Regions from separate parts of the Homo sapiens genome. Here regions 1, 3, 4, 5, 6 and 7 are each linked to region 2. Evidence: fine-mapped expression QTL. A gene starts in region 2. Each other region holds a variant in brackets. All regions are shown on one strand. Distances are from middle to middle.

The links. PIP is the estimated chance that this variant, and not a neighbour inherited with it, causes the effect.
Region 1: its variant is fine-mapped to the expression of TBXAS1 in whole blood (TOPMed, PIP above 0.99).
Region 3: its variant is fine-mapped to the expression of TBXAS1 in blood mononuclear cells (TOPMed, PIP above 0.99).
Region 4: its variant is fine-mapped to the expression of TBXAS1 in whole blood (INTERVAL, PIP above 0.99).
Region 5: its variant is fine-mapped to the expression of TBXAS1 in whole blood (INTERVAL, PIP above 0.99). The same link has a PIP of 0.9 or more in blood mononuclear cells.
Region 6: its variant is fine-mapped to the expression of TBXAS1 in whole blood (TOPMed, PIP above 0.99).
Region 7: its variant is fine-mapped to the expression of TBXAS1 in whole blood (TOPMed, PIP above 0.99).

Annotation. Positions count from the first base shown.
Region 1 is chr7:139,981,983-139,986,150 of GRCh38, forward strand. The region is part of intron 9 of TBXAS1 (thromboxane A synthase 1); the gene reads left to right. Among named protein-coding and RNA genes, the nearest start is that of PARP12, 79 kb to the right of the region's middle. The variant C/G (reference allele first, on the strand shown) is at 2,041.
Region 2 is chr7:139,826,767-139,830,934 of GRCh38, forward strand. It overlaps TBXAS1 (thromboxane A synthase 1), which reads left to right and starts at 2,498. Exons shown (of 13, transcript NM_001061.7): 1 at 2,498-2,713. The coding sequence starts at 2,625. RefSeq lists an enhancer at 2,171-3,370.
Region 3 is chr7:139,916,261-139,920,428 of GRCh38, forward strand. All of the region lies in intron 4 of TBXAS1 (thromboxane A synthase 1), which reads left to right. Among named protein-coding and RNA genes, the nearest start is that of TBXAS1, 89 kb to the left of the region's middle. RefSeq lists enhancers at 1-745, 648-947. The variant G/A (reference allele first, on the strand shown) is at 2,531.
Region 4 is chr7:139,968,861-139,973,028 of GRCh38, forward strand. All of the region lies in intron 9 of TBXAS1 (thromboxane A synthase 1), which reads left to right. Among named protein-coding and RNA genes, the nearest start is that of PARP12, 92 kb to the right of the region's middle. The variant T/C (reference allele first, on the strand shown) is at 1,758.
Region 5 is chr7:140,014,118-140,018,285 of GRCh38, forward strand. TBXAS1 (thromboxane A synthase 1) reads left to right here. Exons shown (of 13, transcript NM_001061.7): 11 at 1,606-1,743; 12 at 3,554-3,716. Among named protein-coding and RNA genes, the nearest start is that of PARP12, 47 kb to the right of the region's middle. RefSeq lists an enhancer at 2,621-3,121. The variant G/A (reference allele first, on the strand shown) is at 2,084.
Region 6 is chr7:139,884,769-139,888,936 of GRCh38, forward strand. The region is part of intron 3 of TBXAS1 (thromboxane A synthase 1); the gene reads left to right. Among named protein-coding and RNA genes, the nearest start is that of TBXAS1, 58 kb to the left of the region's middle. RefSeq lists a silencer at 3,322-3,616. The variant C/T (reference allele first, on the strand shown) is at 2,098.
Region 7 is chr7:139,941,448-139,945,615 of GRCh38, forward strand. The region is part of intron 5 of TBXAS1 (thromboxane A synthase 1); the gene reads left to right. LOC105375532 (a long non-coding RNA gene) reads left to right here. Exons shown (of 2, transcript XR_928043.3): 1 at 1-2,856; 2 at 3,638-4,168. Among named protein-coding and RNA genes, the nearest start is that of TBXAS1, 110 kb to the left of the region's middle. The variant C/T (reference allele first, on the strand shown) is at 2,449.

The sequences.
Region 1 (4,168 bases), 160 kb after region 2:
ATATTAAAACACAAAGTTTTGTAGTTTGAAGCAGTTAAAAGTCTTAATCTTCTGAAAATTTCCCTCTTGTTTGTTATTTGTTTATGAGTTACTTAGGGTTATTAGATAAAATACAGGCTTCTGGTTAAATTTGAATCTCAGATAAACTGTAAATAATTTTTTAGTGTATCTCATGCAATATTTGGGACATACTTATACTAAAAAGTTAATCTTATTGTATATCTGAAATTCACATTTAACTGAATGGTTATATTAATATTTTTATTTGATAAATCAGGCAACTCTGTATTTCATAAGCAGTTTAACCTCTCTCTACTGGCTCTTCTCTGGCAGGGCAGAGGGGTGCTGTTTTATGGAGAAAGGCACTTACTGCTGGGACCTTGATATCTTTAGACTGTGGGGGAGGCTGGCTCTCCTAGGAACACTAACAGAGTCAAAGAGATCAGACAAGAGAGGTGCCAGTGCAAAGGGGGAAACTGAGGCAGGCAGCATGCCTGGGCTTTCTTGACAGTACCAGGGGTATTATAGCCCTGTTTTCCAGATTTTTTGGACTACAATCTCATCATAAGAAATATAATTTATAATTCAACCCAGAACACACATCCCTTATAAATGGAACAAAAAGTTTTAGGAAACATGTCACCTTCTATGTACAATCTGCTCGACATCCTGTTCTAGTTGATTTCATTTCTTTAAATGCCACTCTTAACCCCCTAAATTGAATTCATGGATTGAATTCATGGTCCCCTAAAGGATCACAGCCCACATGTTGAAAAACACTGGGTTAGAGGGTCACAGTTCAGGAAAATGAACGAGGAGGTTTTTTAAAATCTACTTTACAAACGAGGAAATGTATCGGGTTCCTTAAGAGCCTTTCCAGGAAAATTTTTGCTCATTTGTGGCCAAACTCGAAATAAAACTTAGGTCCCCCAACTCCCAACCCTGCGTTTTCTGGTTTCCTTCCACCACTCTTTCTAGTATCCATTTTCCTGGTCTCCAAGTTGTAATACACATTCTGGGATCCACATTTACTTGTTTTATTTTACATAATTATATTACTTGTATACTATTTCCTTATACTTCATATTCTTCTCAAATTTCCATGTTTTATATCATTTCTGATGCAAACTGATTACATCATTGCTTATGGCACATTCTTGACTGATATCAACATTTTAAACCAAATTGTCTTGGTACGCACCCTCTGATCTTTGGCATCTTACTGCCCTGCCCCATCTTCAACCTCGGCTCACTATTTTGGTGCCTCAGGAGGTCTCAACCATGAACCTTCCATGTGCTCTCACTGGGATTGGTGCCATCTGTGACATAAGAAAAACATAGAAACATAAAAACATAAGAAAAACTATTATTTGTTGTGATTTGTTCTCCCTAATCTATGAAGTCGGTAGGGTATCTGTTATAAAGATTCCCTTCTAGAGTCGAGAAAACAGAGGCTCAGAGAGGTTAAGTGTTTTTCTCAGGGTCACACAGCAAATACAGAACTCCAGTCTTCTTGCTGTGTCTCTTACCCTCTGTCATCAGGATGCAGGGGCTGCTGAGCTGAGATGCCTGCAGATGAGTAAACTGGCGGGAAGAAAGACACCAACCCAATAGATCTCCATGTATTTTATATATTTTCTCACCTACTCAGTCTAGATTTTCAAACAACATACAGAACTTTCTGGGATCTTGTCATCATTCAGTGTACTGTCCTCTGGATCCTCTCCAGGAGCCGCCCACTCCGCACACATTTTTTTTTCTAGTTGTCATAAACAAATTTCAAAGAAAGCCATTTTCCCAGAGCCCTTTCTTGTGACTCTACCACAGTTCATCCTGGTTTGCAGAATCCAAACTCAGGGCTTCCTTCCAATATTTTTATTAGTTCAGTAGTCGATCAGTTTGCACAGAGAAGTGGATTGGAGCTCCCCTTCCCTTGGAGCTGCCAGTGGAGAAAGTCTCCTCCAACCCTCAGGCTCAGCACCACTCAGGGCCAGTGAGATGCACAAACAGCATCTTGCAGGTACCACAATGCCTTCATCA[C/G]TTGTATCTTCCCCGACCCTGTGATGAAGTAGGATGAAGATGGCTGAGGGTATGGACGTTGGGCCCACCTCCCTGGCTTAAAGCTGCTGGACCCCTTACCCGGCCATGTGGCCCTGGGGCATGACACAGTTCCCCCTAAGCCTCGCTTCTTCACTGTTTAAAGGGGATAATAATAGCATCTGCTCTGTTAGACTGAGGGCTGGTTAAGTGGAATAACATACTTAGCACATAGCCTGGTACCCACTTATTTTTTTTATTTTGCTACTTTGTTTCAAATCTTCAAATCTTCCTATTATTCCTTTTTTACAGAGCCATGTCAGAAACCTTAGATTCACGTCCCTTCCATGTGTCCCTTCCACATGTCCCTCCTTGACCTGCCACAATGCCTCTGCTCCACCCAGAGCCTCAGCACCTGCGTTCTGCCCCCTCAGTAACCAGGGTCCCTCACCTGCCACTCCTGGGTTGCTCTCTCCTTTTGAACTAGAAATTTTTCTACCCTCCTGCCCCTCCAGCCAAAATTACCTTTTTGATGTCCCATTTCCCCAGGACACTATTTTGTCCTAGGGATCAAAAATAAAAAAATAAGAAAGAAAGAGAGAGAGAGAGAGAGAGAGAGAGAGAAAGAAAGAAAGGGAAGGGGGAAAGAAAGAAGAAAAGAAGAAGAAAGAAAGAAGAAAGAAAAAGAAAGAGGAAGGAAGGAAAAGAAAGAAAGAAAGAAGAAAAAGAAAAGAAAGAAAGAAAGCAGGAAAGAAAGAAAGAAAAGAAAGAAAGAAAGGGAAGGGGGAAAGAAAGAAAAGAAGAAGAAAGAAAGAGGAAGGAAGGAAGGAAAAGAAAGAAAGAAGAAAGAGAAAGAAAGAAAAGAAAGAAAGCAGCAAAGAAAGAAAGGAAAGAAAGAAAGAAGGAAAGAAAGAAAGAAAGAAAAGAAAAGAAAGAAAGAAAGAAAAGATCAAATTACCAGGATCTGAGGACCTGGGAGGATTTCAGAAATCGCTGGTCAGTCCCAGCAACTAAGGCTCAAATGCCCTCCCCAGGATTCTGCTGGAGATCATTCTGCCAGTCACTCCAGGAGCGAGGGGCTCACCTCTTCCTAAGGCAGGACTTTCCACGAGGCTAGACCAGACCAGTGTCCTCCAATTAATTCATTTCCCTGTGTCTTCCATCCATGGTTTCAAACTCTGGGACCCCAAAGCACAGTGGCCCTTTACAAAGTTGAAGGCTATGTCCCTCTGGCTTCTGCAGCTTTTCCTGATGTGGCAGGGTTTCAGGTCCCCTGCCCATCCACCCCCCACCCCTCTAGCCTGACTGTCTGTGTCCCTCTAGAGGGTGACATGCCTTGAATGGCAGCGAACCCTGGTGTGGGCTGATGGTGTGGAGTACAGAGCGGTAGCCGCTGCCCTGTTATCAGCTGCTTCCAAAGGCCAGGGTGGTCGTTAGTGCATCATTAATAACCCATTATCGGGTTGTCATCTCTGAATTTATCTAAATTTATCTCAATTATTGTAACCCTGTAGACTGATAAGCCCTATAAGTATAAAATACACTGGATGAAAAAGCTACTTCCTATTATTTGTTCTAAAAAATTAACTCCTTCAAGTAATCTAGAGTTTGGTGACCAATTTCTTATTTTACCCTCCTCACATCTTCAAAACTCAGCACTGGTGATTTCACGTCTGTTGATGGGATTCATCTGTCCCCCTCCACTAGACTGGAAGCTCCCCATAAGGTGAGACCCACTATAGCATCCCCCAATGTCCAGCACGGAACTGGAGCATCACAGGTGCCCTGAGGAATGAATGGGTGGACGGCGCTTACAGACTCGGGTGCCACTTCCTCTTGTCCAGCTCCATGCCCTCCCCCATAGTGTGTGGACCATCGGGGGCCTAGAACTGAGGTCCTGGTTGGTAGCACCCAGGAGCCTGTTCCCAACATGGCCCCATGGCAGGGCCTGGTCTCCAGGTGTGGCATGAGGTGCTACATGAGCATTCTGTGAGCATCTTCAGGGAGAAAACAAAGTGTTGGCCAGGCCCACCGGAACAGCGGCCCACCTAAACAGGCTGGCGGGCGGAGGAGTGCCACAGAATGGACATGGGGAGGCCTTACAAGGTCTGTAGTAGCAGAGGTAGTGAAT
Region 2 (4,168 bases):
TGACATGATCATGATCAATTGTTATTATTCATATTTTCAGCCATCAGTGCTCTCTGGCTCGACACCTCCACTCAGATGTCTCCAGGGCATCTCAGGCTTAACAAAACTGAATCAGAATTCTTGATTTTCCCAACAATACCTCACCTTTCCCAGACTCCCTGTTTCAATGAATGGCACCTGATATACCTGTAGCTCAAGTTTGGAACCTGAGGGTCAGGTGTGGTCCTCCTTTCCCCTTCCCTTTCATATGCACCCCACCAGGAACTTCTGCAGAGCATGAACCCACCCCCAAAATATATTTCAAGTCCATCTACTTCTTCCCACCTCCCTCTCTCCTCTAGCCAAGCATCCCTTCTCTCTGGGTGAAGGCAGCAGCCTTCTGTGTGCCCTCCCTGTCTTTTCTCTCACTCCTTTCCAGGGAATCTGCACCTGTGACCACAGCCTTCTGTAACAAATGTACCTGTGACCATCCTAAGACCTGTGGGGGCACAGAAAAGGAAGCCCATAGCTACCCCTGCTGGCTTTTGGTGTCCATTTGCATGAAGTGTCTTTTTCCACCCCTTTACTTTAAGTTTACATGAGTCCTTATGTGTCAGGTGAGTCTCCTGAAGGCAGCAGATAGTTAGTTGGTGAGTTCTTATCCATTCTGCAGTTCTGTATCTTTTAAGTGCAGCATTTAGGCCATTTACATTCAGTGTTAATATTGAAATGTGAGGTACCATTGCATTCATCGGGCTCTTTGTTGCCTGTGTACTTCTTTGTTTGTTTTTTGCTTTTGTTTTTTAACTTGTATTTTTGTTTTATAGGTCCTGTGTGATTTATGCTTTAAAGAGGTTCTGTTTTGATGTGTTTCCAGGATTTGTTTCAAGATTTAGAACTCCTTTTACCAGTTCTTGTAGTGGTGGCTTGGTAATGACGAATTCTCTCAGGATTTGTTTGTCTGAAAATGACTGTATCTTTCCTTCATATATGGTGCTTAGTTTCACTGGATACAAAATTCTTGGCTGATAATTGGTTTGTTGAGGAGCCGGAAGACAGGGCCCCAATCCCTTCCAGCTTGTAGGTTTTCTGCTGAGAAATCTGCTGTTCATCTGATTGGTTTTCCTTTACAGGTTACCTGGTTCTTCTGTCTCACAGCTCTTAAGATTCTTTCCTTTGTCTCAACTCTGGATAACCTGATGACAATGTGCTGAGGCAAAGATCTTTTTACAATGAATTTCCCATGTGTTCTTTGTACTTCTTGTATTTGGATGTCTAGGTCTCTAGATGGCTGCAGAAGTTTTCCTTGATTCTTCCCCCAAATATGTTTTCCAAGCTTTTAGAATTCTCTTCTTCCTCAGGAACACCAATTATTCTTAGGTTTGGTCATTTAACATAATCCCAGACTTCTTGGAGGCTTTGTTCATATTTTCTTATTCTTTTTTCTTTGTCTTTGTTGAATTGGGTTAATTTGAAGACCTTGTCTTTGAGCTCTGATTTTCTTTCTTCTACTTGTTCAATTCTATTGCTGAGACTTTCCAGAGCATTTCACATTTCTAAAAGTGTGTCCAAAGTTTCCTGAATTTTCAATTATTTTTTCTTTAAGCTATTTCATTGAATATTTCTCCCATTCAATATTGGGGGATTGTGTTGGGAGAGGAGGGTCTCCCTTTCCCACTTCCGCAAATGGGGCACTCACAGTATTTGGAGTGTCTTCTGGGTCCTGCAGGAGCAGTCTGGTTCCTTCAGAGAGTCTGTGGGTCCTTTTGGGATTGCTGGTTTTTTCTTGCAGTTGATCTGGAGCTAAAATTCACCATGGAAGCCTCCAGATGCTGCTCTGTCTGAAGCTGCAATCTAGTCCTGCCACCCAGCCACTATGATCCCCTCCATCTCTCTGTCCACTTTAGTCAGATAAGCTCAAAGCTAGAACAAAGGACCCATATATGAGCCTACGGATCTGCCTTCAAACACTTGAGAAGCCCTCCAACTCACCATGAGAACACTGACCCCAATCGGGATCTTTGCTTTGCTCCAACAGCCAGACACTCAGACAGGTCCTCAGACCCAGCAACTAATGGACTTGGTGGGATGGTTGTCCTCAAAGCAGCCAGCATTTTGATCAGGCTGGCGTCTGGTCCTGTATTTTTCTGGGATATTCAGAATCTCTTGACATGTATCTTCACTTAATTGTGAATTTAAAAAATTATAGATGGATGTAGATATAGATATAGATATAGACATAGAGATAGATATAGATAGACATTTTGGAGAAGAGTCTCTCTTTGAAGACTTCCTCTCAGAGTACAAGTCCGTGGTTACAACCATTTTGTTTCTCAGCAAACATGGGGAAGTTTGCTTTTCTTCTCTGAGGAAGTTAATATAAATGTTTATTGACAGTGCAGTCATCAAGGAATAAAGTTGCTGATTCATTCCTTTACACTGAAACCCTTTGTTGTGCCCTCCTCTTCCTTCCTCTTTATAGGGAGACACTCTGAGAAAGAGCACATTGTGGGGGCCCACTCCATGTGATGTTTGCTTGGTTGCCTGTTCCCTTTTCTACCTGCAGAGCACGGTTCCCATAAGGGCGGCGAGATCAGCCTCCTGTCTCATCTGGAAGACCACCACTCTGGGGTCTCAGAGGAATGATGGAAGCCTTGGGGTTTCTAAAATTGGAAGTGAATGGCCCCATGGTGACGGTGGCCCTGTCAGTGGCTCTCTTGGCCCTCCTGAAATGGTAAGTGCAGCCAGCCCTAGGGACTGTGACAGCGTCAGCCGTCTCACCCTGGAGCCTTGCTGGTGCCATGGCGGGGTATGTGGGAGTGTGTTTTTCTTCTTTTCTAATCTAGCGGGAGTGAGTATTAACACAGCTTCAGAATTAAAAGCAAACAGCCAGGTTAATCTTTTGCTAAAATGCATGAGATTGAAGTGTCAGGAAAGGCTGGTGATTCAGTGACTGAGAACGCTACACATAATTAAGTTTGAAAGAGATGGAAAAAGAAACAAATTGGAAAGGCATTAGGTTTGGGTAGAAGCATTTCCTTGAACCCCGTCATATCTCCTCACCTCATTTTTCTAAAATCCTCTGTCCTTGTTGGATTTACAGTGAATTCAGCCTCTTGGTTCATATTACATTCAAAACAAAACAAGACGTAGGAGCTGTTTGGCAAATGTGGGCCTCTTTGCAGGAAGTCATTGAGGGGGATTTCTGTAGGGTTAAGGACAAAGTGGTAGATCTAATTTCTCATAGTTGATAGAGGGAGATGGATTCTGATGAACATAGTGTGTGCAGCTCCTACAAAATTTGAGACCCTGAAAGGATCTCAAACTTGAACTCCGAGTTGCTCCCCTGTGGTTTTGTTAATTCAACAGCAAATTTTCCTAAGGCTGACTCTGGTGTCTGTAGGTCGAAGGCCTCATAATATGCTACATTTATGCATATTCGCCCTGTCAGTTAAACTTATTAGAGTTACCCATTCAATCAAAAGCACCTGGATTTAGATGGCTCTGGCTTTTGAGGGCAAAGTGAGTGGAAAAAATAATGGAGGACTGGAGTCCGAACAGAATTTTAATTTATGTTTTCAGTAGTAATAAAGCCTTCTCTAGATTAATAACTGGGAAAGCACTTTGAAAAGCATCAAGCATTATGCAAATGTGAGGTATTATTCTTTTGGAATTTGCATAGCTGAGAGTGGAATTCACGTTTGATGTTCTATGATGATGAAATTACTTCTTGGAAATTGGCTCTGAAACCCAGCCTCAGTCCCAGTGCTGTTTTTCTTTTTAACTGGTTTAATTTTTTTTTTGAACTTTTTTATCTCATTGTAGCTTACCTTGGATTGAAACTGGCCACATGTAAAACCAAGAGCAAATGGTAGCTCCTTCCCTACCCCCAGCCCCCAATAATCCATCTCAATGTGTTTTTATGCTCCGGGAAGCCCGAAGCACAGTGTCTGACATGCAGAAAGTGCTTAGTCGATGTCAGCCACTATAATTAACCATCTATCATCTATGTAACCTAAAAGAAAATAAGTCTTTAGTGGTTTAGGTTTATTTTTAATTTCTTACTAATGTGCTTATTCATATTAATCTCATCAATAGCTATGCTCTGACTGTGGTTCTCAAAGCGGACACTTTTTTACACTTTTGTTTCAGTCTTTGTTGTGTCTGAGCCTCCAGCTCAGTGCCTGCC
Region 3 (4,168 bases), 89 kb after region 2:
TGTGGGAAGGGTGATAAGAGGTAAGCCAGTCTTTGGCCCATGTTAGCTTGGTCTGGTCAGATAGGCATGTCAGGGATGTGTCAAAACACTAAGCCTAGTGCTTTGGAGATGTGGGTTCTGGTCTGGAGTGGCAGTATGGAGTGCCATCTCTCAGGTCCTCATGAGCAACACAGAGGTCACCTCTCCAGGCACAGGTCGAGCCACACCACTGACACACAAGAGTCACGTCCAAAGCCATGTGATGGACGTGGTGGGTGGTTTTATCCCGAACCATCAATACCCGGCACCCTGGCTGCCCCAGGTTCAGCCTCTCAGGGGCTGCTTCACTCGCTCTCCACACAGCTGTGAACATTGCAGGATGAGTCACTGTGAAACCACAAACTCCTTGGCATTGGTGAAGATGACTAAAGTTATAGGCAAATTAGTCACTGGAAACCTTCCTGTCCTCTGTATCTGCAGCAGCCTCCTATCGAAGGAAGAAAAGAGTATGTTGGCTCATTGCAGAGCTAATTGGCAAGGAAAGCTCAATTCAGGGCTACAGGTGAGTCAGACGCCCTTGTGCGGGGGCCACAGGGACCCGCCTGCTGGCATCCATTGAGGAGAGAGGGGCCCTTGGCAGACTTGCCATAAAACCGCCCCCCTTGAACTCATTCCTACACCTGTAACCACTGACAGTTTTTGAAAACTGTTCACCTGGAGTTCCTGGTTCTCTTTCTCTTAAATCAAACATTGAGTAAATGAAGACACTCAGATGTTCAAACATGTGCATCAAGATTTTACTTGTGAGAGTGGTTGCCATGCATGACCTAGGGAAGCTCTCATGGCTTCAGTCAAACCTTGCCAACTTTTTTTAGCTGTGCATTTCTTGAGAAAGGTCAACTCACATTACGGGTCTACAGCTCTGAGCAAGGGAGAAGTTCTTCCTGAAAGCACAAACAGACTACAGAGGGCAGTGAAACCAGAAACACAGGTGTGCAACCTCATTTGCCTGCCCCCGTCTCTATTTTGAGGCCTCTTTGTTTTATGTGACCTCCGTCTCCTTCTCTGCCGCAATCTTCTTCTTATAACACCCACTTTCTTCTTTTAATTTCCCCCTCTTCTAAGCCATAGCCCAGTGGTATGGCGAAAGGTCTTTGCTGTGCATAGGAAACCCTCCAATCTGAACTGGAAGCTTCCTGTTGCAGGATGGGCTGCCCCATTGGAATTCCCAGGTGACAGTCGCAATGGGATGCCTGTCCCCTGCAGGTCTCCCATTTCACCTGCTTTTCTAATGTCTGGACATGGCTAAGTCCTAGAAAAGCCAGATCCATGGCATTACATTTAATCAGTACAACACACTGAGCTTCGTTTCCAACATGGTAGCTAAGTTTTAATTCTAACATCTTTAAAAGTACTGAGTGTCTTGTGATGCCTTGGGAACACAGGAATAGTGTTAAGTGGTGTTGATTCTCAATGCTCAAATGTACTTCTCTCTGCCTTGCAGAGATTTTTCTAAAATTTCAAGACCTTGTTGAAAATGATTTCATATTTTTGTGTCTTACTAGACTCTTGGTTCAGCAGGAAGCTATCTTTATATATTTTTTTAACAAAAAGAAATTAGTAAAAGCTTGCTCTGATATTTATGCCATATTTCCCTAACTTTTGTCGTGGCAGAAGTAGAAATAAGTGTGTAAACCAGGAGATTAATATCTACAATTTAGGCATGAGAATAGAGAAATAAACCATAAAATCAATTCTTATCTCTCAATGGATATATTCCAGAACATTCCATGGAAATCAAGTGACTAAGTCCTGATCCTCCCTGTCTTTCTCCGCCCCAATCTCCTTCTTATGACATTCCCTTTCTTCTTCCCATTTTCCCTCTTCTAAGCCATAGCTCAGTAGTATGGTGAAATGTCTTTGATTTTAGTTTAAAGAAATGAAATCAGATTCCAGATTTGCTACCTCTTATTAGTTGTGTGGCCTTCAGACAATCCTTTAACCTCCTGATTCTCAATTTCCTCCTGTGTAAAATACATTAGACTAGCTAATCCCTAAGGTCTGTTTGGTGCCCAGTTCACGTGACCGTTGGCAGCCACAGGGAGCCACGGAGTCCCACCAGCGTCCCATAGAGCCACTTGGAGCTTCAGGTACAAGGAACAAGCCCCTCTTAGGCCCCCTCAGGAAAATTTATTCTCGCAGCCAAGCATGTCAAGTGCAATATCAGGAACACCCTTGTCCTTCTTGAACACTGCTTCTGGCCAGAAACTCTGCTGAGATCTGTTGGAGAGTTTCCTGCAAAGATAAGAGTTAACAAGCCCCCAGATTCCCTTCCCCGCTCAGGAGGGGCCCTCACTGTCAGCTTTGGGGCTGATAGAAGCACAGTTCCAAGCGCCTGGCTTCCTCCTCCTCCCCAGTGGATAAAATGCTGGAACTCCGTCAGGCAGGACTGCCATAATTAGAAGAGGCCCCTTTCCAGCAGCTGAAGCTGACTAGGCAGATAGAGCCCAAATTTGTTTTTAGCCACCACATGCCCCTGAGCTGACCCCTC[G/A]AGCTGTGGACACATCTCACAACCTCACCCGGAGGCCATTCTCTCAGGCCAGTCACACTCTCCCACAGAGAGAGCGAAGATGATGTCAAATCTATGGCCACCTTCTACCAGCAGAGGGAATGAATGAAAACTGACATGTAGAAGAGTAAGACCACTACTGTTTTCATTTTTGGTATTTTTTTTTTACATTTTAATTTTTTTATACTCTATTTTTAGTAAAAGGGACACCTTTACTATTTCAAACCACCAAAATATAAGCCCTATTTGGTTCAAATCTTTGTACAGCCAGATAGCAATAGATATAAATTGACAATGGCCTCAAGTATAGAATTTGGGGTTATACAAGTGACAGAATTCTTGAGTCTCAGTTGATTATAATATAATGAGGGGACAGTGCCAGGTCTTTCACGTCTCCAGGTGGGAAGGGGACAAGTTGCACGATGGCTGTCCTCATCTGTGCCTGGTTGTGTGAGAATTAGAAACAACGTTTGTAACAGTGGTACCTAGTCTTTGTGACCGTGGTCCTCTTTTTGATATTAATATTTTTGCAGACTAGTTGGCATAAACAAGTTGGCTCTCTGTACTCACATTACAACCACTGAGGTATAACACTATCTCTTGGAGTCCTTAGAAGCACCTCGCTCTGTTCAGCTGGCCTCTCAGCCTTGTGTGGCTGTTTCAGAACTGTTGATCATCTGTCAAGTCATCCCAGAGATCATCTAGATCTTGAGTCCATTTCTTGCATGTTCCAGAACACAAGAAAACATTTGTGGCTATAGCTTCATATTCTATCATGCCTTTCATCCCTTTCTCCCGATAATACATGAACCCGGTTACAGCAGAAATGCATTCCATGCATTTGCAACACTCTGGAAGGAGCCAGTGGTTCTTGTGTGGCTTTACCAGGCCAGTCGAGAATCACTGGGCTGGTGCATGAGAAACCTTCAGTAAGTGGCTGCTGTCTTCATGCACCCATGGAATGCCGAGGTGTTGGTTTTCTTCAATAACCTGCTCCTCAGGGCAGTGTTTCCTAATTGCTGGAGAATGACCCAAGAGTTGATGAAATAATATGAAAAGTACTGTGTTTGCTGTAAGATGGACAAGTATTGGTGATATAGGCCACCCCACTCCCACCCTCCATTCTTTGTCTTGATAGTTCCAGTCCCAGTACAGCACCTGGCACACAGTAGTTGCTCCATCATTATTCACAGCATAATCACAGACACCATTCAGAGCAGAGCTTGTACAGCCCTAAACATAAAGTGCAGCAAACCCAGCTCAAGATCATTGAAGCTAGCAGCCATTCAGCTCCTGCTGTGGGATGGCCAGGGAGGGTCAGAGACTGTGGTCTTGACACATTCTGTGTGGGGTTCATCCACATCTTCCTAAATGCCCAAGGCATGGCTATTTGAAGCAGAGCAAGTAAAGACAACGAGGGGTCCCTCTGCTGGGTTTTCTGTCCCCCTCTGGCTGCCAGCACTAATCTAGCCTTTGAAGAGGGGCAGAAGGGGCAAAGTTAAACCACACTTTCCTCTCTTACCTGTTGTCACCCCTCTAATGACTTTTCACTTTCTCTGCTCACCTTCTCCTTCCTGCCTCTTTTAGAAATGGGAAACAAAGGGCCCATAGGCCCTAAAA
Region 4 (4,168 bases), 140 kb after region 2:
CCACTCGTAAAGCTGAAAAAACCACACCATCTATTTAATGAGACCTTTGTTATATGGCTGCTTCATTGTGTTCTCATGTAATTTTGAAAAGGATGAGAAAGGAAAAAAACCAACTTCTTTTCATATAAATTGTGTCTTCTATAGCTTTAGTGTTCTATGTTGAAATTATTGACTTTTGATCTGGCTAAACCATTCTCTTTTCTTCTCTTTGGTGCTGGACTCTGCCAGCCAAAATTTATGACCCATTTTCCTTCTGCTTAATTGTTGTTATAAATCTGCTGTGCAGAACCCAGTTGTAAATTTATCACAGACTGGATTGGATTGATATACAGCCTCTCTTTAGGATAATTTGAACACAGTTATGCCTTAGAAGGAAGGCCAAATTCTTAAAACTTCTCTTGAAGAGCTGCTTTGTAACCATTATAAATATCTAATTAAAATACAACTTACTCTTTCTTTTTCTCTTAAGGATAAAAGAACATTCTGTGCTGGTTATTTCAGCTTATTAGCTCATGCTGCTGTGTGAGCAAGGTTGAGGATTTGTTCCTTGAAGCAGTCAGAGGATCTCCAAGAAAAAAAAGCATATTATGTGCTTACAAAAAAAAAAAAAAAAAAAAAAAAAGCCGTTTTACCCCCAACTAGCTTTTTCATGAATACACATCCTTTGTCACAGGGAAAGGGTTGAGCAGGAAAAAAAGTGAATAGCTTAACACAAATCTATCCTCACTATGGAAAAAAAAAATGTCTTCCCATGTGGATCTCACCCAGGGAGGAGGGCATGGTTGGCTTTGAGATCAAGTAGAAAACTGGAAATGGGTTTTTCCCCATGGGGAAGGTTTCCTCCCCTTTGCCCAGGTCTGCTGGGGTCGGGCTACCCACAGTTGGTGAGGAGTAAGTTCAGGAGTTCCCCATCAATTCAGTCCCCCAGCCACACAGGGGTCAGAGGTGCTGCTGAGTCTCTGCCTTCTGACAGACCCCACAACAGCACAACAGGACAACAGAGCACAAAGCCACAGGGACAAGGGAAGAGGCAAAACAGAGAACGCCTTACAGCCCTAATGTTGAATCTAAAACAAAGAACAGCGTCACTGCAGCGTGAGAAAAGTGGCAACGGGCTGTGGCACCGGCCCTTGGTTAGGGCATCACAAAGTTTAACGTGCACGGGAATCACCTGGGAGTCACTAAATCTGCAGATTTTGATTCAGCAGGTCTGGGACGAGCCTGAGGGTCTGCATTTCTTTTTTGTGATTATTATTTTGTATTTATGAGACGGAGTCTCACTGTCCCCGAGGCTGGAGTGCAGTGGCACGATCTTGGCTCACTGCAGCCTCCATCTCCCAGGATTAAGTGATTCTCCTGCCTCAGCCTCTCGAGTAGCTGGGATTACAGGCTCACGCCACCATGCCCAGCTAATTTTTGTATTTTTAGTAGAGACAGGGTTTCACCATGTTGGACAGGCTAGTCTCGAACTCCTGACCTCAGGTGATCTGCCCGCCTCGGCCTCCCAAAGTGCTGGGATTACAGGCGTGAGCCACCGTGCCCGGCCAAGGGTCTGCATTTCTAACCAGCTCCCAGGTGATGCTGATACAGCCAGTCCATGGCCCACACTATGTACAAGGAGCCAGGTTCTGAACCATACGTACTGTGTCTCTCTCACGTGTGCTGGACATGGCAAGTATGTATTCCTCATGACATTTAATGTGCTCATGTTCTTCAGTGGTTTACCTTTTGCTAATAAATCTCAGTGGTTTCCTGAT[T/C]ATTCCATAATCATGATGGCATTCACTTTATTGAGTGGGAGATGAAGTGATGCAGGAATGAGCCAATCCTAATACATGTTAGAAGTGTATTAATCCTAAATAAAGCCTAAAATCATCTATTTTCTTCAGTAATTGTTTCCATGGTGGGAGGTTAGGGGGAGCTTTTGAGGTGATTTAAAGTCATTTTCAAAGCAGATGAAGACGGCAACCTGAGCTTTCTGTCAGGACATGTGTGTAGACTGGAGACCTATCACATCCAACGGGACCCTCAGGCCAATCCTTTTAAGCAGGGGGCTCCACCCAGCCCCTTAGCTTCCCTACTCCCCTAAGCCCCTTGGTTGTAGACAGTAGCTTCGGGTGCCAGGTGGGAGGCCATGCCAAACAACTATAGCCAAAGAGCATGTCTCTGATGCCATTTCTTTGGTGGCCTAGGACAGAATCTGAGCTATTTCCACTAGAGGAATAGGAGCTTCAGCAGGGGGCCTTGGAAATGTATCCAAGGTACCCACCTCCTGTCCTTCTTTCTGGAAGCATCTGGCCCTGGGAAGTAGCATCCCGACCACTAATATCAGGGCACTAATATCAGGCAAAGGGAGGAAAAGTTGCATCCTGACCACTAATATCAGAAAGGCCCCTCCTCCCAGCCCGTGAAGAGGGGCCTCTCTGGGTGTGTACCTGGAACCCTATCTTGGAAGTTAAGTTTTGTGGTCACTGCTACCAACACACCAACTCCCAGGACACAGGATACTAGGGACTTCTGTGCCCCATCAGTGGACAAGTCACAAGTTCCCAAAGCAGGGTGACCAATCGATCTGGATCAGGTGGCAGGGCCTCGGATCTTAACTGTCCATTTCATTGTTATGCACACAAACTTATCTTAGAGATCCGGCCATCTGCCTGTTCCCGTCCTGGGGATACCTGCGGGAAGGCAGGCTGTGCCTCCCAGAGGTCATCTGGGCTGCAAATGGGTGCCAAGACCTTCCTCTGCCCCTACTCAGGACTCCAGACTCCTCCACATCCCCTGGAGATACTCAAAGCCCATGCCCACAGTAACCCGTAGGGAAACTGACCCGCTCTGCCTGGGAGCTGCTCCCAGGAGCCTCAGCAGTGGCAACCAGGAGCTTAGAGACCGCTGTGCCTCTCCCTGCCCACCCTCTCCCTCTCATCCTGCCCCATTTCTCTGTTGTCTTTCCTCTTTCCTCTCTTCATTGTTCACAGCACTATTTAATCTCCTTCCCCTCTTTCTTCCCTTATTCTTGTTCTGACTCTATTCCCAGGTCCAGAGAGGCCCAGAATCTTCTCTGCTCCTGCTCCACCTCCTGACCCACTGCCCCCTGGGAGCCCCTGGTCATCCCAGAAGCCTGTAAGTGCACACAGCAGCCAAGACCCACATGCCTGCAATGGGGGTGGCACAGGGGAGGCAGGGTGAAGAGCAGGACAGACTTGCAGGTGTTTTTTTCTGGGCTGCCTGGCTTCATCAACTGCAACACTCCAGCACTTTGAATTTTTAGCAATTAATGCCCCAAGTCCCCCTCCCCCTGAGTCCCTGCAGAGCAGAGGGAGGGGCACCTGCAAAGAGAAGTCTCTCCCAGGAATGGGTCACACCAATCAGCATGTATGTGGTGTCTTTCATGTAGCAAATCAGAGTCTTTCATATTCAATAGCTGGGCCTCTAGAGGGACCAAGCTTTGCTAAGCAAATAAGCTTGTGGGGTTGGTTCACATCCATCCAGAAAAGCAAGAATGAAAAATAAACTTGGGAAAGTCAGCTCCACAGGTGAAGCTCAACCTTCTGTGCATCTGCTTGGCATGGAGCTACATTTGCAACTGAATGGCTCATTTATTTAACTATTGCACACATTATGGGCTCTTAAAACATCAAAAGAATGGGTTTTATTCCCAACAATTAGCTCTTGAAATAAAAGAATAAACATACTTTTTTTTTAACTTCCCCAGACTCTGTTGACCAAAGTCGCTTTCACACCAGTGGAGTGGAAGCTCCAAAATGGTATCATCTGGTGGGAATTTAAAGACTTCTTGTCCCCAAAAAACCTTTTCGTCACTAGGCTTAAAATTTTCCATTGGGAGGCCCTGGCTTTGTTTTGACACATGATCCGTTATTAACACACCACTCATTTTGGGAGGGGAATATCATCAAGTCCCAGCCAGGATGTAAACCCCACGACTAGGAAGCCTCGTCCGCTGGGTACCTTGGTAGGTCCCAGGGCCGAGCACAGTGCCTGGCACGTGAGAAATAGGTGTTGAGAAAAGTTATTTCACTCTTCCTTTTCTAACTGGAAACCAACTCCAAGCACAGATTTGAGGGGGGACGAGCAGGGAGGCACAGTAGATAAAGCCTGTGAGTTACTGCGCCCAGCGAGAAAGGGGTCGGTGGAGTCAAAGAGAGAAGGC
Region 5 (4,168 bases), 190 kb after region 2:
TCATGAGAAGACTGGATTGCAAAGAGGTCAATGAGAGACGAGAATCTAAACTAAGGAGATGGCAGTAAAACTGGAGAGATGGCACCATACGAAAGACCAGTGATGAATCTGCAGACGGGGAGAGACGAGTACAGGATGGCTTCTGGTTTCCGGCTTTCTCAAGCCTGTGTGGGAAACAGAAGGAGGAGAAGATTCTGATGACCTGCTGCTGCTCAGGCCGACTTCGAGGATTCTGTGGACCGCCCAGGGAAGAGGCCGGGTCTGTGGGTAGAAATTGGAACCTGGGGTTCAGGCTGGGGCTGAGGTAGGAGGCTTAGGAGATAATGGAAGTTGAATCTGGGAGGGCAGACGAAATCCCTGGGAAGTGCCAGGATTTAAGAGGCTGGTGGATGCAGAAGAGCCTGCCAATGAGGGAGAAATCAAGGAAAGAAATGTGTGTGTGCATGTGTGTGTGTGTCTGAGAGAGAGAGACAGACACACACACAGAGAATGGTAAAGATGATGGACACAGGCCAGGTGCAGTGGCTCATGCCTGTAATCCCAGCACTTTGGGAGGCCGAGGCAGGGGATCACTTGAGGTCAGGAGTTCGAGACCAGCCTGACCAACATGGTGAAACCACCCCCCGTCTCTACTAAAAACACAAAAATTAGCCAGGCCTGTTGACACACACCTGTAGTCTGAGCTACTCGGGAGGCTGAGGCAGGAGAATTGCTTGAACCTGGAAGGCAGAGGTTGCAGTGAGCAGAGATTGTGCCACTCCAGCCTGGGTGACAGAGCAAGACCCTGTCTCAAAAAAAAAGAAGAAGAAGAAAGAAGGAGGAGGAGGAGAAGAAGAAGAGGAGGAGGAGGATGCAGCAAAAAACAGCAGGTGAATCTGGGTAAACGATACATGGGTATCTAATGTACTATTCTTCAACTTTTCTGTAAGTTCAGAATTATTTCCTAATGAAAATTAAAACAGAAAAACAAACAAACCAAAGAAATGTGCAAGAGGAAGACAATCAATGACATAGACAGACCAAGTCAGATGAAGACTGAGGAGTATTCATCAGATGTACCCATAAATATTCTTTGGGGATCTTGGCATGGGGACCATCCACAGGAGGGAGGGGACAGATGCCAGGCAGCAGGGCTAGTCAGTGAAATGGGAGGAGAGGGAGCGAGAGGGTGAGCAAGGGCAATTTTAAGAGGCTTGGCTGTGAATGGGAAGATAGGATAGGCTGTGGCCCAGGAATGACCCTCCAGGCCCCCACTATGAAAGCAATCCTTCCAAAGCAGTTTGCACCCCGACATGGGGCACAAGAGGGGCCCTTTGTGCTTGACAAATGGATGCATGAAGGGATGGATGAGTACATTTTCATCAAGGACCAAGTGAGCCTAGCCTCGGGGCTGCAGGCTCCTGGGCAGTGAGTGGTAATGGGGTAGGGGCTTGGTCACCCTGGGAAGGGGGCTGAGCAGGGGGTCCTCTGTCCCCAGCCTCATTCCACACACCATGCTGCCTGCCCCTGATCCCCTTCACACTCAGACTCTGCCTGCCCAGCACGCCCCAAGCTCTGCTCCTCATCTCTTCTCTGTATCCACCCCCGACCTGGTGTTTCCCTCAGATTCACACGGGAGGCAGCTCAGGACTGCGAGGTGCTGGGGCAGCGCATCCCCGCAGGCGCTGTGCTAGAGATGGCCGTGGGTGCCCTGCACCATGACCCTGAGCACTGGCCAAGCCCGGAGACCTTCAACCCTGAAAGGTGAGTACTGCCCCTTTTAAAAAGCTCTGAAGGGATGTGAGTGTGTGGGATAGAAATTTACCAGTGGAGGCAGCAGCCGGGAGGCACAGACTTAGCAAAATTGTCCCCAAATAGTCAAAAGTTATGGCAATTCAGATAGATGTTTGCAAGACATAATTTCCAAAGGAAATAATTATACCATTTTTTAGCCACGCGTGGTGGCTCATGCCTGTAATCCCAGCACTTTGGGAGGCCAAGGTGGGCAGATCACGAGGTCAGGAGATCGAGACCATCCTGGCTAACACGGTGAAACCCCATCTCTACTAAAAATACAAAAACTTAGCTGGGCGTGGTGGCGGGC[G/A]CCTGTAGTCCCAGCTACTTGGGAGGCTGAGGCAGGAGAATGGCGTGAACCCAGGAGGCGGAGCTTGCAGTGAGCCGAGATGGTGCCACTACACTCCAGCCTGGGTGACAGAGCAAGACTCTGTCTAAAAAAAAATAAATAAATTAAATAAAAATAAATAAATAAATAAATAATTATACCATTTTTTCAAGGTCCAAACTGAATCCAGAGATTTAGCATTTCAGCAGCCCTGCATGCAAGGAACAAGGCAATTTCAAATGATTGTCTTCCATTCATTCAAGCCAGGACATGGGATACAGGATTGTATTTCAGGTCTGCACTGGAAAGTAACGGAACATCATTTCCTTTTTAAAAAACGGGCATCTATGCCAAAACAACAGCTTCAGCTGATGTCTCCATGAATCTAAATTCACGTGATCCACTGGTTGACCTGGGTCCCCGCCTTCCACCACCTGGCTTTGGTTCATTGTCTCCTTTCATTTCTGGGCTCTGTGATTGGAAACATCTGAGCAGGCGGCCCACACTCTGGTCCTCATCAGAACCAGTCAATATCCTGTGTGTGTGATCTGGCAAGGGAAGGGCTGGCCCGGCACCAGTTGTGTTTTCACCTTTCATGGCTCCAACTGAGTTCAGCCCAAGCCTACGACCCAGTCACTGGGAAAACGTGAGCAATGGGATCTACACAACAATATTCCACAGTCAGCAGCTCCTGAACGTGCCGCAGCCACAGGGCTTACAGCCTCACAATAAAGCCCAGGGGTAGTAAAAAGTGAGCTCGCTGTTACAGAACAGTGAGTGCCACCTAGCTTCACTGTCATGGGACACACGCTGCAGGCAAATGCACTACTTGGTAGGAGATTCAGCAGTTCTGAGGAAGGGCCTCCAGCTCTCCAGGTACTGCAGCTTCCAGTGGTTCAAGTGTCCAGTGCAGGGGCCTGCAAAGCAAACACGGGCAGGAGAGGGGCTGCCAGTGTGGCCCAAGAGACCTGCAGGGCAAGCCAGCAGGACACGCCCCCCAGGGAGGGCCCAGGAGGTGCTGAGGTGCCCGGTACCCTGCCAAGGAAGCAGGTGGCGGCTGGGTCATCCTATGGGAGGGGAGGTGGCGCCATGGGCCCAGGTGAGGGTGATCACCAAACCCTGGGGTTCAGGGATGCCGTGTTTAGACTCTGATTGTGGGTGGCGGTGAGTCTGTGGGCTTATTAGCCACACACTGAATTCCTAAGGAGAGGCAGGGAGGGAGCTGTGGACATTCCAGGTGATTCTGCGAATTCAGCTCTGCCTCTGGGGCTGTGCAGGAAGACAGGAGGCCAGGAGCAGAGAGGGACTGAGGCTCAGGAATGAGCAGCCATCAGCTCCCAGAGCCTTGGAGACATCCTTGTCTCAGATGCAGGGGTGGCTCAGCTGGAGCACAGGGCTGCAGAGGGGAGGGAGCGGGTGTTCTGGGCCAGCCCTGACCACACGGACCTGCAGGTTCACGGCTGAGGCCCGGCAGCAGCACCGGCCCTTCACGTACCTGCCCTTCGGGGCCGGCCCACGGAGCTGCCTCGGGGTGCGTCTAGGGCTGCTTGAGGTCAAGTTGACACTGCTCCACGTGCTGCACAAGTTCCGGTTCCAAGCCTGCCCTGAGACCCAGGTGAGGCCCCCCTGCTCAGAGGCAGGGGCAGGGGCAGGGGTGGGAGGGCCACCCCAGTTCTCTGCGTGAGAGCAGGCCAGCCTGGGGGCAACATCAGGCTCTGCCTCCGTGAGCTTGGGCAAGCTCCTTAACCTCTCTCGGCCTCAGTTTCTTGATTCGTAAAGTGGGGGTGATAATAATAACACCCTCTACCTCTCAACATCCTGTGAGGATCCAGTGAGTTCACACAGCGCTCAGGTAAGCCCTGGCAAGCCAACCCGAGCACGTGTTAACCATTGTTATTAGTATTGTTCTCTGCACACCAGGGCTGGACCTCACCTTGCTGTAGCTCTTCCCACTTCCACAAAGGGCACACAGACAATGGCATTTGCAGTTGTGACATGTGCCTGCCTTTGCGGGGTGGGGGGTGCATGGCTTGTCCTACAGAAGGTGGGGACACTTCCTCTGGCTCC
Region 6 (4,168 bases), 58 kb after region 2:
TTCAGGAACCTGAGAAGCCCCCGGCCCTGAGAAAGGAGTCTAGGTAGTACAGCAGGGTCTCAGCGGTGAGGGCTCTGAGGATGAACCAGGAATTGACATTCAGTTCTAAGATTCACAGCATCATGTGAGGCCCAGGACCAGAAGCCAGACCTAATCTCCGATATCAGTCAGGGTGGACAGGTCCATCATGGTTGGAACAGATCCATGCTGGAGAGGCACCGAGTCTCATGATGTGTGGCTGGAGGTTGTTCCTGCTTCTGGGGCCAGGGCTGGGCCTGCAGATGAGGGACAGAGCACCTGGCTAGAAAGGAGAGAGGACTGCAGCGGCTGGAGCGTCAGCCACAGATTTTTAATTTTGCTTTCCTTGATATTCACATCCAAAATCTACCATGGAGAACTGTATATCACGTTCAAGGTGGAAGGGAACTAACTCATTCCTCATTAGTAACTATCAAATATGGCATCAGTACCTTCTTTATCCTGTAAGTGACAGCTCTGCACAGATGTGTTCCCAATCGATAGAATGTCTCAATTAAAGTTGCATAAAAGCTCTATTTTGAGCTAATATCTTCAAATAATAAATTCCACATTTAATTGAAGCGTACCTGCAACAAATCCAAGTTGTTCAACCCAAAATGCATAATAGAGTATGTAAAACAGTCATGAATCACTGTGACATTTGTCAAGGCATTCTCCCATCTGGAAGCAGGTCCAGAAAGCACATGGCTGTATGCATATATCTTTTGTCAAGAACTTTGCACAGACAGTCTCAAAAAGTGCACACATTTACCCAATTCTTAGGGCTCTTCACTCTGATTGAGAATGCAAATAGCATTCCTATTCTATCTAAAAAGAAGAAAGACAAGCCATCTTTGATTTCAAAATTTAAAAGAAATTATTACTAAATTTGAAGAAGCAATGAGTTCCCAATTCACTTAGAGCTTAAAGTTCCTCTTTCATCACTATTTTGTGAGCAGAGGAACTTTTTCCAAACAAGTTCTTAGAAATCCTTGCTTGATTAAAAACCAGTTCTAAATCTTGTTACTCACATAGGGCAAAAGGTAAAGGAATCTAAATGTCTAAAACCAAATTAACTCCAGATACTAGTGTGAACTTTCAAGCAAAAAAAGTCACACACCACCGCATACACGTTTGAAATTCTACTAAATTTTGAATGTTTGACGTTAGCCTTTAAACTGGAACATATTCTTCTTTCTTCCTTAGGATCTTTAAATCTTTTAAAGTTTGGGTTGTTTACTATGCATTCTAATTACTCCTGATCACTCTTATGTGTAACATTTCTATAGCTATGCACACAAAGTAATTCCTTAGCAAGGCCCCACCAAGTTTTATGATGCCTGCTTGCCTAGGGCAGATAATATAAACTTAACTACGAAAATAAGTTCTTTGATTATTCTTCGTATCTCAAGACCGTGCTCCTAACAACCTCTCCTCCATCTCACCCTCAAGCTGCAAGAATTTTGCAACCCACTCTATGAAGTTTTTCCACCCTGAGTAAGGCTGTCAGTTTATTGGCCTATTTATAAAGGTCTGACTCTCTGACATGTTCTCCAGGCTCCCCACATTAACCACTAAGGAGGCACTCTTTGCAGATGAATTTTTTTTTTTTTTTTTTTTTTTTTGGCCTCGGCTTAAAGAGGAACCTATTAACCTTTGCCCGGAATCTATGGCTGGTGAATGGCTTGTCATAGCATGTTAGTTTGATGAGGCAATTGTGGTCTTTTTTGTTAAAACACCCCCCAGCACCTCTTGATACTACTTGGCCTACTGGAGATGTGGGCATCCAGGATTGAATCAAAACTACTGCACTTCACAACAGAGCTACTGCAGGAAGGAAATCCAGGTACTCCCTGGCTTGTGCCACCTCCATCTTTTCCGTGGCTAATGTAATGCCTAGTGCATATTCACCACAAAGAGGCAACTGTTGAATGGCTCTTCCATTTGCCTTTGAAGATTGCTTGTAACTCTTCAAGTTCACTTCTTCATCTCACTGCCAGACCACAGCTTGAGACTGATGATTGACATGGCCACTAGGTTCTTCCCAAAGACTCCAGCCTAAAGATTGTTAGCTGCTTC[C/T]CCCAAAGGCTTAGCCTTCTCTGCTAGAGTTTTGGTTCTTTGGAGCATCCCATGAGCAAGAAGCCTCAGCTCTTTGTCCTCCTCTGTGTAGGAGCCCACAAGGATGCTTTATCTCCAATCTGGAATGGACACTTAGCATCCTGAGTTCTGCCCTGCTCAAAATCCATACCTGTTCATGAGTACCAGGGCTTCAGGGCCCGAGAACCCACAGCTAACACCCATAGGAGAAAGGTTTCATATGAGTAGGTGGGATGGGTTTTCATGCCTCTACAACCTGGCCAGCAGGAGGAACACTGTGACCCATGGTTTCAGAATTGATGGTCTCCCACTTCTCGGTTAGATCTAGGTATTGAGAATAACCTGAAGGACATTTGGCTGGAGGACATTATTTTTATTGTGTTAAAATATGCATCACACAAAATGTACTCTCCTATTTTTCATTGTATAGATCAGTTGCATTAAGTACCTTCACATTGTCGTGCAGCTATCATCATCGTTCACATCCAGAATTTTTTTCATCTTGCAAAGCTGAAACTTTGTCCTCATTAAACATTAACTCTCCCTTCCCTCCTCCCCCAGGCCCTGACAACCACCATTTTACCTTCTGTCTCTACAAATTTGACTACTCTAAGTACCTCAATAAAGTGGAATCATATGGTATTTTTCCTTTTGTAACTGGTTTATTTCACTTAATATAATATCCTCAAGGTTAATCCATGTTGTAGCACATGGGAGAACTACTGCCTTTTTAAGGCTGAGTAATATTCCATTGTAAGCCTATTCTGCCTTTTGTTTATTCGTTTGTTTGTAGATGGCGGAGTGTGTTACTTCCAGCATTGAGCTAATGTGAATAATGTTACTTGAATATGGATGTGGAAATACCTCTTTGAGACCCTGCTTTTAGTTCTTTTGGGTATATATGCAGAGGTGGAATTGCCAGATCACAGAGTAAATCTATTTTTAGCTCTTTGAAGACCGTCATACTGTTTTCCATAGTGACCATACCATTTCACCTTTGGAGGACATCTTATAGCAATGCTTTGTTGTCCCCTTTTCACCACGATTATGTGGCCATTACTTCTTGTTTTCAAACCTTGAGAGTGAGCTCAGGTTAAATTTACACTTCCCTTTGTGCCCTGGATCCCAACTGGTCAAGGTGAACCACACATTTCTAATTGGAATGTATGACCCCAGTGACTTTGCCTGTAACTTCCTTTTGGCTAGGCCAGTAAGCGCATTTTTAACCAAACCGACCCCATTATCAACAAATGCTTGCACTGCACGATAAATTCAGTTTGCTTTAATAAATTCCCAGTAGTCCTCACCCAGAGCTCCTTCTCCTCTTATCTCACTCCTTGCTGCCAAACCCTTTACAATTTATGTGTCTGCCTTTCGGTTCTGCCTTCAGCCCCCTCCAAGTTTCCTCTTTCCCACCAGCTCACTGTGGCCTTTGTGTCTCACATAAATTTTGTCTTCTGTGTCTGAAACTCTTACTGACTTCTGCTTCCTTGTTCCCTGGGTCTACACTGTTCCTTCTCTTCCTGGAACTGACCCTTCGATCTCTGGGCTTCCTACCTTGAGTAATTTGTCAAAATCCTGTTCTTGCAATTGGTGGCTTCTCAATTTTTTTCCTCTGGGTTTTTTTCCCACAGTCTTTCCACTATATCACAGGGCATACACTCCTGCTTCATGACTGTTCATGACATATTGAATTCCCCTCTTGTACCCCACAGTCTCTGCACTGAGTGTGTGCTCATTGGGAAAGGTTAGCTCACATTATACCTATCCAAAAAAGGAGAGGTGGCAGGTGGCCTGTGGAGAAGAGTGTATCCAGGCACATATGCATGGGAGAAAGTTCAGAGGTTTTGGCTGAGATAGAAAGAAGAAGAGTAGAGGCCAAATGTGTGCTAGGAAAATGTGATGTTTGGGGCACAAGTAGAGAGGACAACCTTGGCAGTGGCAGATGAGAGAGAACCTCAGGACTGGTGCTAAGGAGGTGGGTTATTTAAAGAAAGTTGTGCAGGTATAGAGTGGAGAAGGGGTGCAGGGGGAGGATGGAATTGAGTTAAAA
Region 7 (4,168 bases), 110 kb after region 2:
CCTATGTCATACCAGGGATAATATAGAGCAACAGAGAACCAGGGAAAATGTGATTCATGCATCTCCAAGTCAGGAAAAAGAGACTATTGGAATCATAGCCAGCGACAAACAAGTTATTGGGATTTATAGAAAAGGATGGCTGAGCATTCCTGGAAAAACAACTGACTTTTTGTTGTTGTTGCTGTTGTTAGGGAAGATTTTGTCTGCTTAACTGGCCAGAGTTTTCACTCCATCCCCCGAAGAATTGACGTTTTAAAAAGCACAACTGTAGATTTAGATTTTCACAGTCTTTTGCTAGATTCTTTACCAAAGACTATTAGTGAGTAGTAACCCTGGGATTGTGTAAAACTTTATTAAGGATGAGGGAATAAATAGGTTTAATTTCAGGAAATAAAACTGGGGCTAAATTAGTACTTCTCTGACGGAAAATGTATAAATAATGTGATCCCCTGGGGACCCAGGTTAGCACTAGATTTATTTTTAAATTTTATAACTCATCTGAAAGAGAGAGAACACAGTGGAATCTATATATTTGTATATTCCTCTAAGCTGTTCTGATTTGAAAGATATTAAATCAATAGGAATAACTTTCTGAGACTCTTGTAAGATTGCATAAGTCAGCACAAAAGTGGCAGGTAACCTTCAGTGTAAGCAAGAATAAAAGAATACATTTAGGAGAAAGGCATCTAAACTGTACTTATATGATGATGAATTTCAAGCTATGAATTACTACCAGGGAAAAGGATTTGAAATATGGAGGACCGAAAAGGCCCCATAGTCAAATAATTTGGTGAAATATTACAAACTATATTCTTCAAGATTCACCATGTACCTGAGCATATGAAAGGCTTGAGAAAGGCCTGCAGTAAAGAAACCTGCTTAACTTTGTTTATTCTGGGCTCAAATAGGTTTTCAAAAGGAGAGAACGTGGGTTGTTAACTTCCTGGTTGGCTACTGAGAGAAATGAGTCTCTTGAGCAATTATCCTTTGCAGGTAGCTTCCATGAAGAACCCAGTTTTTGAGTGCCTCTAGCAGAGACTAAGCTTCAAACCTCATTAACCATGGATCCAATCCAATATGGCAGCTTGTATGTTCTCCATTCTCAAAGCCCAATATAAATGATGGGCTTTCTTCATTCACCCAGATAACTAAGAGCTGATGGTACCCCATTGAGCAGATATGGGAGACAATGAATCTTCATAGATGAGTGCCTAAGGATATATGTGTCACTCAAGAGTAAATGAACCAATCATGTTGCTATGCATAGGGACTCAGTTAAAGAAAAGTCAGATAAAATGGGAGGCTGGTATCTCGCACAGCACTGATCCGGCTCTCTGCCTAATTTTTCACTTTTCATCCAGATGTTCCCCGTCAAGAAGGCACAGTCAATAATGTATGAATCTTAAAGGCAGAGGCAGATGTGGTTATTACTCCCTGTAGGCATTTCCTGACTTGGAGACGACATGTTACTCGAGAATGACTACAATTTTTAAAAATTTAAGTTGATATAGCCCGCTTATGAGTAAATGCATTTCAGTGCAAAAGTCTTTTCAGAATTACAGTCATCATCACAGTTTAGTTTGGCCTTTAAATTTTCACTGTAAACTCTCCAGATGGTCACATATGGGGGCTTCTAAGGCAGAACACGCTTCCCAATAACATTAGAGCAAGCAGCCTTCTCTAGGAGGCATCCATTTCCAGCAGTCTATTTTTAATATTTGCTTTTATTTCTTAATCCTCCTGAACAATAAAAATGAACGTCATTATAACCAAGTGTGGCTGTAGTCATCAATACTTCAGAGTCCAAAAATACATTGGCCTTGCCTGACCAGTTGCCCATTTTCTGGAATAGCTGGGTATTTATCTAGCAGCGAGAGACCATTATCCTGAGACACAGTCGTGTTCCACCGACACCTGATCTACTAATTAAAATCACTATCATGATGGACTGTTTAAATTCTGGTTTAAATGTTCCTTTTGCATTTGCATTTAAAAGAAAACACACTCCTCATCATGGGCACCCCAGCCTGGGTTATAATTTGGCTTTCCTTTGCCAGAATTATAATGTCACTCTGACTTGCCGCTGGTTAAATCTAAAAGAGCATCTAAATGTGCCTCACAGCTTGGCTGTTGCTTGGCAACGCCAGCAGCCACCTCCTCATTGGGGTGACTTCTAATTGGTCACAAGTCTTGACAGGAGCCACTGACTTATTAGAAATGACACTTGATTATTCACCTAGATGGCTAGAGCTGATACTTAGCAGCAGGAAATTTTGCATAAAAAGGAGTCGTGGATGTTTTTAATATCTGGGTGGCTTTTAGCGATGGTGTAGTGGAAGAAGGAAGTGATAAGTTTCATTAGTGGAAATTAATTTTTCATTTGTTGGTCACCAGTTTAGAGCACTTTAAGGCATTAATTTTTTCATTTTAAAAAAAAACCCAGAAATA[C/T]GTTTAAATACCTTCCCCCACCCCCAGCAGCTGACCCTTACTTATTCAGAAAACCCTCCTCTGACATCAGCCCCAAAATATTGCCCCCAGGTCCACCAAGGGCCAAATCAGATGAAATGTTCAATTTATAAAGGTCAACAAATATTTATTAATTAGTTCCTGTTGTTAAGGAGTTTATAATGTAGAAGAGAAACAAGGTACATAAATCACTGCATTATTACCAATCGTGGAAGGTGGTGACAGAGCTGGGGTCCTGCTTTGAGCATCAGAAGCCACTTTGGCAGGGAGGAAGCAGTGAGTAGCACCGGAATTGAGCTCTGAAGATTTTGCTGTTTTGACAGAGGGAGAAGGTGCATTGCAGGTGGAATGAGCTGCAGGAATCAAGGCATCTGGACAGAAAAGTACAGGGTATGTTCAGGGAATAGGGGAGTACAAATTGGCTGGAACACAGAGTACATGTAAGGGATTAGTGAGAAAGAAAGCTGAAAAAGTAGGTTGAGGCACGTACAGTTCACTGTTCTGTGCCGAGAGAGTGTTTGGTGCACACTTCACTAGAGCTCGAGGAGCTATTAAATACTTGAAAGTGAGGGAGTGACCTGCTCAGAACTCTGTGTTAGGAAAAAGGGTTTCATTTCAGCTGTTTAGCCCCCAAGCCAGCCATTTCCCAGACCCATGGGGCAAATCTTTCTGGTGCAGATGAGGGGAACTGTGAATTGTCTGGAGGAGTCTCCTCTTTGTAGTAGCCCCAAGTATGGGCAGGCTCCCAGGGGCCATGTTATGACATCAAGGCAGCGGTGTCCACTGTGGCTCTTTTGAGTCCCTCTTCGTGTGTGGATCAACAAGTCACCCAAGCTACACACCATCAACGTTTGGGGCTTATCTCTGTTTAGATGGATAGGGTTATGTAAAAAAGACCCTCTCCTTCCCTCTCTCTGTGTAGGAAATATGTTTTCCCTAGCACTCAGCATTGTCCAAACTTTCAGGAACTCCAAAGGCTTAAAGATGGTGGGTTTTTTCTTTCTCAAGTTTATGACATAAGATCTGCACAGAATGACCTAGAAGTGAATAAACTAAGGAGCAAAGGAAATGTGGAGGCTGAGTTTTGTGGGAAAGCAACAAGCCAGGAGTCAGGATATCTGGGGTTCCAATTCTCATTTGAACACAAAAATAACCAGATTCTGCCCTTTAGGTCCCTATGTATTCTGAAGTTGATGTGTCAAAGAAATGACAAAAGGCTTTCTTGGGAATGGGATGTGTTGCTGAAAGCACATGGACCAATGATCTGACACTTCCCTGCACTGAGCTAAGAATTTGGCTGCTCTCTCCATGGCTTCAAGCAACTGTCTCAACCTGATGCTTTGTGACCTCCTTGGAATCTTCAAATGTCAGTGGAAAGGGACATTATAGCTCATTGCGATCAGCCCTTCATTTAGGGATGAGGACCCACGTTCAGAGAGATTCAAATGCCAGGTCCAAAGTAACACATAGGACCAGCATGAGTCTCAGCTTTCTTCTTCAGAGCCAGTTTTCAGCAAACCACACTGTATTCATGCTAAGAGACAGTGCCTCAATCTGTTCATGTTTCTTGGGTACCTTCTATGTCAAGGCTCTCAAGGAACATTTGATCAATCAGTCATCACACAGGTATTTCTAGAAAATCAACAGAATGGGGTGTGCTATGCTCATTCTTGATATAACAAATACCAAAAACTTCATTAAT